3 separate regions of the Homo sapiens genome follow, and all the other regions are reported to be linked to region 1. The links are microRNA targets in miRTarBase. Many come from high-throughput screens and were not tested one by one. Region 1 holds a microRNA gene; each other region holds the end of a gene's coding sequence.
Evidence for each region. Region 1 holds the annotated microRNA hsa-miR-6722-3p (UGCAGGGGUCGGGUGGGCCAGG, at 1,288-1,309, opposite strand). A microRNA usually pairs through its seed, bases 2 to 8, with sites in the 3' UTR of a target mRNA and lowers its output. Matches are read on the target gene's strand: a 7mer-m8 pairs with bases 2 to 8, a 7mer-A1 pairs with bases 2 to 7 and ends in A, and an 8mer does both.

Region 1 (3,246 bases):
TGGGGACCTTGGCTGGACCTCACTGGTGTCTGAGCCTGCTGGGAACAAGGTTCCAATCCTCTGTCCAGGGGCTTCTCTTCACCCTCAGGATGGGCAGCAATCCCAAGACCAGAACCTGTAGCCTCCTGGCTCTCGGGAGCGGAGTCAGCCCTCCGTCCCTGCCCGCAGGGGGCCTGGGGATGCTGCAGGGAAGAACGGCCTGGGTGAGGCCGTGGCCGTCAGACTCACAGGGATTCTCAAACACCCATCCGGAGTTTCGCTTTATCAGGTCCATGACACTCTGGTCACACCCTCCCAGCCTGGAAAAGAAGGGGCCTGTCACCCACTCAGGGTCAAGACCCCGGGGCCCGGTGAGAGGAGACGGAGCTCAGGAGTCCAGGCCAGGCCAGCCAGCAGTGAGGCCAGAGCTTCCATCTTCTGCCAGATGCCCCGATGCCCGGAAACCTGTTCTCGGAGAGTGGACGGCGTGGGAGTCCTGAGAGGGGCGGACACTCCCATTCACTTCCTGAGAGATCCTCAGTGCCAGATCTCCACCAGGAACGCTGAATGCTGCTGAGGACACAACAGGAGACTCGACAGACGGGAGGTTCGCCCGCGACTCGGGGGAAAGATGGGGTGGGGTGGGGGTTCGCCCGTGACTCAGGGGAAGGATGGGGCGGGGTGGGGGTTCGCCCGCAACTCAGGGGAAGGATGGGGCGGGGTGGGGGTTCGCCCGTGACTCAGGGGAAGGATGGGGTGGGGTGGGGGTTCGCCTGCGACTCAGGGGAAGGATGGGGCGGGGTGGGGGTTTGCCTGCGACTCGGGGGAAGGGGCCGGCGCTCCCTAAGTGGTCAGTCCCCAGAGTGAGCAAAACCCAGCAAAGGTGCAATGGTGTTTGCCAAGGAAGGAAACTGAGGCTGAGTCCATGCGGGAGGAACAGCAAGAAGAACTAGGAAAGCCACGTGGGAGCTGCCACCTCAGCCTGGAGCCCCTTGGTCCCAGCTCGCCCTGAGGCCAGGCCTGGCCCGGGGGGTGCAGTGGGGCCCCTGCCCATACCCTGCAGGCGCAGGTGCAGGGGGAAGGCACGCTGGTGAGGAGGGCAGGTTCTTCTCTCTGGGCCCCGTACCTGGCTCAGTGGTTCAGGCCTGGGCTCTGTCGCCAGCCTGCCAGGGGGTAGACACCCACCACGCCACCCAGCAGGCCACTCTTCTGTGAAGGGAGGCGGGCACCGACTCCTGCCCCAGCACGGCTACCCCCACAGCCCGGCTGCCCTGTAGGTGTCCCCTGTGTAGCACGGCCGCCCCACAGCCTGGCCCACCCGACCCCTGCACGCCGCCACCAGCCATGCATGTGGTCGGGTGCGCCTGCCTGAGGCCACAAGGCCAGTCTGGCCAACAGCGTCCATGACCATATTGTTTGGGGATTTATGTTATGAAAGAACCAGTGGTTCTTAGGTCCGAATGCATTATCCTCCTTTAAACAGAATTCCCGAAAAAGGCCTGCTGAGAGGACAGGCTTCCCCAGCTCTGACCACAGCCTGCAGCCCAGATGACCCAGGACAGGGATGCATGAAGGAGCATAGTCAGAGCAGTGCCCGCCGCGGTATTGAAGGTGGGAGTGCCACCTGGAGGCCCCAGGGACACAGATGTGAGTAGCTGGGCAGAGGGCTGGTGGCTCTGCACAGAGCCCAGTGGGAAAAGTGACGGGGGTGCAGAGGGGCCGTGGGAAGCCCCCAGGCCGCGGTGCCCGGGAGCAGATGTGCAAAGTACATGATGTGGCTGAGCCACAGTCCTGCCTGCGGGAAGGCCTGGCAGGACCCGCCCACTCACCCGTGCTGAGAGGACAGCGTCCGCAGGTTGTTTTCTGGAGTGAGGGTCACCACCACCCCCACGACGTTCTTCATGTCCTTCTCCATGGCAAAGCCCTTTTCCCGGGAGGCCACCGCAAGCACGTACCAGGGCCCAAGAAGCTGCATTGAGGCGGCTCCCGTTAGGGCCGCCAGCCCTCCAGCCTCCAGCCTCCAGCCTCCAACCCTCCAGCCTCAGCCTCCAGCCTCCAAACCTCCAGCCTCAGCCTCCACCCTCCAACCATCCAGCCCTCCAGCCTCCAGCCTCCAACCCTCCAGCCTCCAGCCTTCCAGCCCTGCAGCCTCCAGCCTCCACCCTCCAACCATCCAGCCCTCCAGCCTCCAGTCTCCAACCCTCCCGCCCTCCAGCCTCCAACCTTCCAGCCTTGCAGCCTCTAGCCTTCAGTTCTCCAGCCCTCCAGCCTCCAGCTTCCAACCCCCCAGACCTCCAACCCTCCAGCCTCCAGCCTTCCAGCCCTACAGCCTCTAGGCTCCAGCCCTCCAGCCTTCCAACCTCCAGCCTGCAGCCCTGCAGCCTCTAGTCTCCAGCTCTCCAGCCCTCCAGCCTCCAGTTCTGCAGCCCTCCAGCCTCCAGCCCTCCAGCCTCCAGTTCTACAGCCCTCCAGCCTCCAGCCCAGCAGCCTCCAGCCTCCAGTTCTCCAGCCCTACAGCCTCCAGCCCTCCAGCCTCCAGTTCTCCAACCCTACACCCTCCAGCCCTGCAACCTCCAGTCTCCAGCCTCCAATTCTCCAGCCCTCCAGCCTCCAACCCTCCAGCATCCACCCCTCCTGCCCTGAGGCTCCTGCCTGTGGGACTCCCCAAGGGCTGGCCCAACTAATTCCCCACTGCTCATGCTGGTCTGGGCTAGCCCTGGGGGGCCCAGAAGCTGTGTGGCCTTAAAGGAGGGGCTGGCCCCCGAGGACCAGCTCTCCCCACCCCCAGGAGGACTGTACCTGCTCAGGGTCCAGTCTTCCCAACCACACGGCCTGGGCCCTGGGCACCGAGACCAAAGCCAGAAAAGCAGCCAGCAGCAGGCCGCCCATCCTCCCAGGTCTACACTGCGCCGCAGGCCCAGGATGTGCAGTCCCTCCAGGCCCTGGAGACCCGTTTATATGGCTCTGAATTTCTCCGTGTGGGTGGCACTAACTGCCAGGAACCCTCCTGGCCTCCTGCAAAATTACCCAGGGGAGCACTGAGCAGTGGCAGCCTCTGAGCCCAGATCAGACCAGCTGCACAGCCAGGAGAGGGTCTGGAGTGTGTGGATCAACCATACTATACTGATCCCCTGCTTTCTTCCACCAGAAGGTTCCAGAATGGGCATCCTAAAGCCAGCCGCACCACCTCCCCCGTTCCTGGGGACCCACGCTCTCCCTCGCCCAGCCTGGGAAGCAGGGAGACTGCTGTCCGCTGCCAGGCCCGGC
Region 2 (3,246 bases), not on the chromosome of region 1:
GGTCTCGCTCTGTGGCTCAGGCCTGTCTCGAACTCCTGAGGTTGCCCAGGCCTGTCTCGAACTCCTGAGCTCAAGCGATTCTCCTGCCTCGGCCTCCCAAAGTGCTGAGATTACAGGCGTGAACCACTGTGCCCGGCATGGTGGATGTCCTTGACTGTTTCCTTTGCTGACCTCCCTCCAGGGAGGGCAGGACTGTGTCTGACCTCAGGGGCATTTGCTGGGGTCTGGGGTGGTCCTCTGTGTTCAGCAGGTGGAGGCTTTGGGAGTCACAGGCCACTACCTCCTTTGCAGGGGACCGGCTTCGGCAGACAGAAAACCGCGCCACGCGCTGCAAGGTGGAACGGCTGCAGCTGCTTCTGCAGCAGAAACGGCTCCGTAGAAAGGCCCGGCGGGACGCGCGGGGTCCGTACCACTGGTCACCCAGCCGCAAGGCCGGCCGCAGCGACAGCAGTAGCAGCGGGGGCGGCGGCAGCCCCAGCGAGGCCTCCGGCTTGGGCCTCGACTTCGAGGACTCCGTGTGGAAGCCAGAAGTCAACCCTGACATCAAGTCAGAGTTCGTGGTGGCTTAGGATCTTCGGATCGGCCACCCTCGCCCCTCGCACCCCAGCCCAGGGCGGCGGGGACTCCGAGAGCCCCGGAGAGAACGTGGCCCAGCCCTGGAGGGCAGGCGGCCACTCCCCCAGCCAGAAGTCTTTTTTTCTTTTCTTCTTTTTTATTATTTTTTTCTTTTTTTAAAAAGTTCTGACCGTGGTTTCCTGGACTCTTCATGGGCTTTGCTTCCTACCTCCTTCACCCTTCACTCCTGCCCTCCTCTTCCTCCTCCTCCTCCTCCTCCGTCTGTCTCCTTTCACCTCTGCGCCAGGTCGGTCCTCCCTGCCAACCTTCCCCAGCTCCAATATGTAGCAGTCTCTCTGGATGGCGGAGAGTGAAGGAGACGGAGAAACGCGCCCCATCCCTTCCGCCGCCTCCTTTCCCCCCCGACCCTATTCAGGTTTTAAGTCAAAAATGTCGATATGTCATTATGCACTTTACAGATGAGGGGAGGGGCCGCAGTGCGCAGAACCCACCCCACCCCCCAGTGCAGACTTCGGGGTCTCCACCCCAGGCCAGCAGCGCCCACTGGGCTACAGCAAGCCAACAGGTCACAGAAGCCAACGAGGGGACTGTTTCTCTTCCACTCCTATCCTCTTTTCTTGATCTTTTTTTTGCATTTTCCTTCATTTCTTTAACAAGGAGAGCAAAGCTGTTTTAGCAGAGGCTGGGGCTGAGGTCCCCATGGGGTTTGGGTGCAGGGGCATGGCACCCTTTCCTGTCGGGAAGGGAGAGGGGAACTACCCCCCCAGCCTGCCCTCCGCCCCGCCCCAGCCGGCGGACTGTGCTGTTTCCTCCGCCCCCACTCCCGTGTTTTCTGACCTCCTGCCTGAGTTTGGGGTATTTATAGACTATTAATTTTCTGACTGAGCCAATAGTGGTTGGGGAACTCTTGAAAAAGGGGAGAGAATGGCTGGGTGCTGGGGAGTTCCCCCCTCCGAGCCCTCCTTCCCGGCCCAACCTGAGGGATGTGGATTTGGGACTGTCTGGGGGCCCCTCCTGCAGCGAGGATGGGAGGGGGTGCTGAGCTGTGAATCCCCTGGGCAGGGGGCGACAACTCCGTGTAGCATTAACCCCCGTGGCGGGGTCCGCTGCTGGTCTAATTTGGACCCCCTGCCTCTCAGTGCCCCTGCCCTAGGGGTGTCTGTCTCCAGAGGGGAGGGACAAATCCCCTACTGGGGCCATTTCAATGGGGTAGTTTTTGGATTTTTTTCCCCACTCACTTTTTATTTTTTAATGATAATGGAGATGTCTGGACCCTTCCTCACCCCACCTGTCGGTCTTGTCCTGGCTCTGCCTGTCCCCCACCGTTGTTCTCGTAGGTGAACCCCAGGTCCTCAACTCCCCCCCTTTATGTGTTGAAAGTTAATGGTTTCAGATGTGAACATCACGTGTTATAACTGTAGCGCTGTAAATTTTTTTGTGGGAGGGTGGGCAGGGAGGGGTCCCAGAGGGTAGAGCTCAAGGATTTTGGGTTTTGTTTTGTTTTCATTTTTCCAAAAAAAAAAGAAAAAAAAATAGAAAAAAAAGGAGTAAAAGGGGCGGGTTTGTTTTTTGAAGAACTGTCTTGGATACCTATTTAAATGTGTGTTCTGTTTTGTTTTTTAACGATTTTTAAATAACGTCTGTGCCTCCACTGGTTGAGGGTGGAACCTCCAGGCAGGAACCGGCTCGCCACCCTCTGCCCGGTAAGGGCTGCCCAAGAAAGCATTACCCGCCCTCGGGGGGTCGGGCTGTGGGGGTCCCGGCACCTGGCGTGAGTTTCATGTATGAAAACATAAAATTGAAAAAAAAAAAAAAACCTACACGAGCACCGTGATTTCAAGTAATAAACAGAAAATGAAACACACATTGACTCCCGCCTGCTCGCCTAGTGGGGGGATCTGGCCTTGGTTGGGAGGGTTCCTGGGGTGGGATGTCAGCTCAGGGAGTCAGAGGGACTGACCTGGGTCCCAAGGCCCCGAAGAGGGGGTGGGGCAGGGGTCAGGGCCCTGAGAATTTCCCACGCTCCTTCCCCGGCTGCCGGGTGGGCAGGAAGCAGCCAGGGTGGGAGGGAGGAGCCCAGCCACTTCCTGGTACCCAAGGCCGGAAGTCCCTTAGGGTGTGGGGCGAGGGCCTGCCTGCCTGCTTCGTGGCCTGGGCAGGACCCTGGCCCCCTCAGGACCTGCCAGTATGGGGGAGACGCGACCACCAGCTCTCCCCAGCCACAGGAGTCGGGGACTCCCACTCTGCCACACCCACCTGCTCCCCTTCCTGGAGTCTCACATCTGTGTGGCTTGCTGCAGGGAGATCACCAGGCCGACTGGGAGGACCTAGGACTCCGCAGGGTACCTTGGGCTGGCAGGTGATACAGGCCTGGCTTGACCCAGCCCTGGGGGGCCTCTCTGGCCACACCTCCTGACATTCCAGCCCTTCCCAGACCTGGCCTTCAGCTCCAAACCTCCCGGCCTTTGCCCCCTGTCTAGGAACACCCCTGGTCCGGCTGTCCCTTGCTGTCTGGGAACTTCCCCAGCCTGCGCCTTCCACCCCTGTCCACCCCGTCCCGCAGACCCCACCCTTCCCTCTCTCTGTCCCTAGCCTGGAGCTCCCCGTGAGCCTCACCAGGACTGAGTCCTCTCTGGGGTCCCACCTCCACCCATGTCCGGGCTGGGCAGA
Region 3 (3,246 bases), not on the chromosome of region 1:
TCTGTGTTTTTTCTTCCTTTCCCCAAGCCCACTTTGTTACCTTCCTTGGTTGCTGGATGAGAAATTAGTCAGAGGGTCAGAGAGGACCTCAACTTCATATGCTTTAAATAGAGCATATGCAATTTTAAACCATCCTCTTAACCAATTTTTCTTTTCTTTTCAGTTTTTCCCCAGTTATACTTCCACATGATACACCAGAGAAGAAAGATCCTTTCTCATACTGAAGAACACAAGAAATTTGAATAGTTCCTGCTTTCTGCACCTCCCACCAAAACAAACTTTTCAATGATCAAAAAATGCTGCAGATTTTTTGAGTTCCCAATACGTTTCATAGAAAATAAGTAAGAACTATTTTTAAAATATTCAAACAAAACTAAAACAAAAATCCAGTGTCACATGGGCCTGAGATTTTATTTTAGAAAAAGGTTGTTACATAAAACACCCTGGCCAGTTCATTTCAGCATGCTCTTTCAACCAGAAGTTCTTAATATTTATGATGGCACTAGAAAGGGATTTGGCATTTTATGTCCTTCTGTGTCCTTCATGTATCTGATCAATGAAGACCTGTAACACTAAGTACTTGAGAGTTACAGTCTGAATAATGAAGTCGTACCAGCTGAATAGCCCAGCTTGCAGTATAGTTATGTTTCAGTCTGCAGTGTGTTTAGCATTCCCTTGTCAAAGTGCTTGACTGCATGCTGGAAACTTTGTATTTTTGAAGCGGCAAACTCTGTTCTCTGGAATGCTCTGAAGTTATGGCTGGGACCTATCCCCTCACATCTAATGAATGAATTATAAAATGTATATGTCTATGAAGCTTCGGGGTAGTGCCTGTAATCAGAAAACAACTTAGAACCCTTTTGTTTGTTTCCAATTGAGTCATTACTGCCTGCCACTAAGAAACGTGCTTGAATCTAATAAGTATGTGTGTACCGTAAAGAATATATCTTATCTGGAGCTCAGCCTCAATCATGTCTTAACAAAATGACAGGTCTCAGAAAGGGGGAGCTCAATAGCTCAAAAGTGACAAGTCCTTTTCACAGCACCATTCTCAGAACACCTCTGAGTAACGTGTTTGCCAGTAGCTATTCTCACTGATGCACTGATGGCCCTGAAGAAGCGGATCCAGTCACATAGGAAAGGAGGCTGTGTTAGTGAAAGCACATGGAAGGTGTTGCTTTAGAAAGGTAGTCAGGAAAAACATTCAGGAATAGATTTATACACCATTATTGTTTTATTTTTAAATTTTCATTCACTCTTCTGTTTGGATACTTTTGCTAATTAACTTCCTATGTTAATTTCCACCAAGCTATAAGTCCATAGTCAGTAAAACATTCCCCTTGGGCTGTCATGAGCTAAAAGCAGTGTCATCTCCGCATGTTGGAGCAGCCAAGAAATAGTTTGGTACTACCGACATTGTCTAATCCATGTCACATCCTCATACAATTTAATTGCTCAACCATGCATTTAAAACTCCTCAAGAAAGGATTGGTACTGCAACTGTAGGTAAACTGAAAAAAAATAAGAAAGAAAGAGTTGGATGAAAATGTGAAAGCCCAAGTTTAGATGTGCATTAAGTATTAAATAGCACAGTATCTTCTTCATGGAGCCTTTTTTCCTCCCCCATCCCCTGCAGCTGCCTTTTTTTGGGGGCAGGGTGGGGGTTGATGTTGAACTTTAAGAGTTTAAAAGTTTAGCTTATTGAGTAGTTGTCATTTAAAATATAATTGCGAATATCAGAAAACTCATACTGGAAAACTAAATTTTTTTTTTCTCTTGAGACGGAGTCTCGCTCTGTTGCCCAGGCTGGAGTGCAGTGGCGCGATCTCAGCTCACTGCAAGCTCCACCTCCCGGGTTCACGCCATCCTCCTGCCTCAGCCTCCTGAGTAGCTGGGACTACAGGTGCCTGCCACCACACCCAGCTAATTTTTTTTGTATTTTTAGTAGAGACGGGGTTTCACCGTGTTAGCCAGGATGGTCTTGATCTCCTGACCTCGTGATCCACCCGCCTCAGCCTCCCAAAGTGCTGGGATTGCAGGCATGAGCCACTGCACCCAACCCCTGGAAAACTAAATTTTTAAGTGCTTATTTTTATAGAAGTTTGAAAATTTAATGCAGGCAGGTGTGTAATAAATTATTTTTGAATTGAACATTAAAATTCTGCTTCTTAAAGTCAGCACTCAACTTGGACATGTTGAAATTAGAATCTATTCTTGTATTTGATAGACAAAATATGTGGGAAAGATTTTTTGCATGACTTTTCTCTCATTTTATTCTTCCATAATGTATTTCTACTATAAAATAGAATCAACTTGGGTTATATTTGTCATTTACTTTGTTCTGTTAGATTTTTTCAGTTGTTTTTGGAAAAATTCTAGAAATCAGGATGAAAAATGCAGCTTTTCCAGGGTTGCTGGACTGGGGGTTTTATTTGGGCCTCCTTATTATAATTTGTCACTACTTATAAAAAACATTCTGTTGCAAACAGTGGTGTTGCATTGAATTGAACTTTGGCAATGAGAACACAGCACACAGCTCCCTTTTCAAAAAGGGTCTCAACCCCAGTGTGTATTTTTGTACATCAACATTTAGAATACTTATGGCAGATAAGTAAGGCATGTCACTGTGTCCTTCAGTAACCTCTCTCAGTAACTGGTTTCTTTATCCCTAACATGAATTCATTTCTCCTTTGAAGTCATTTATTATTTTATAAATTGAGAACAACCACACCACCAAATGTCACACCTTCTTATAAAGTGTGAACAAGGAAGGTCATGTTTTTGTGGGTATTTTGTCAGACTTAGAGGTTTCATTTCAGGGCATAGTCAAAGGCATCATCCTCCCAACTACCCACTTGATTATGTATTTCAGATCCCTCCGTGGGGGCCTTCTTCTGACAGAGAATTCTTTGAGGTCCGCAGTAGTGCTTTTGTCAGCACAGACTGCTAATCTACATCTTGCTGCGTTCTGTTTGCTGAGGTTGGGCTTATTCATTTAACACATACCAACCATTATCCAGAGGCACCATGGAGAGTTAGTCATGGAATAAAGCACTGTCCTTGCAGATGAAAAAAGTCTCCAGAGCAGACTTCTGACAGGAAAGGTTTAGATGCTGGAGAGTTGAAGAGGTGTAAGAAGAGATCGTGCCCTCATTTTTCACTTATTTTTTTGGTTATTCATTTATAATAAAAGGTTGGCATTGATATGGTACAACCTGCAAATTACTTGCAGTTCTGAGTTTCAGA

Region 2: miRTarBase lists MIDN as a target of hsa-miR-6722-3p. Seed matches in the 3' UTR shown: 7mer-m8 at 1,702-1,708 and 7mer-m8 at 1,718-1,724.
Region 3: the mRNA of HACD2 is a reported target of hsa-miR-6722-3p. Seed matches in the 3' UTR shown: 8mer at 1,628-1,635.

The regions. Positions count from the first base shown.
Region 1 is chr9:136,745,616-136,748,861 of GRCh38, forward strand. MIR6722 (microRNA 6722) reads right to left here and starts at 1,355; the gene lies at 1,278-1,355. LCN6 (lipocalin 6) reads right to left here and starts at 2,910. Exons shown (of 7, transcript NM_198946.3): 1 at 2,779-2,910; 2 at 1,809-1,948; 3 at 229-299. The coding sequence starts at 2,868. It overlaps LOC100128593 (a long non-coding RNA gene), which reads left to right and starts at 546. Exons shown (of 3, transcript NR_033913.1): 1 at 546-586; 2 at 1,463-2,957; 3 at 3,131-3,246.
Region 2 is chr19:1,256,704-1,259,949 of GRCh38, forward strand. MIDN (midnolin) reads left to right here. Exons shown (of 9, transcript NM_001388306.1): 9 at 292-2,440. The coding sequence ends at 569. Among named protein-coding and RNA genes, the nearest start is that of MIDN, 9.7 kb to the left of the region's middle. RefSeq lists enhancers at 2,288-2,437, 2,858-3,017.
Region 3 is chr3:123,491,888-123,495,133 of GRCh38, reverse strand. HACD2 (3-hydroxyacyl-CoA dehydratase 2) reads left to right here. Exons shown (of 7, transcript NM_198402.5): 7 at 164-3,246. The coding sequence ends at 246. Among named protein-coding and RNA genes, the nearest start is that of ADCY5, 44 kb to the right of the region's middle.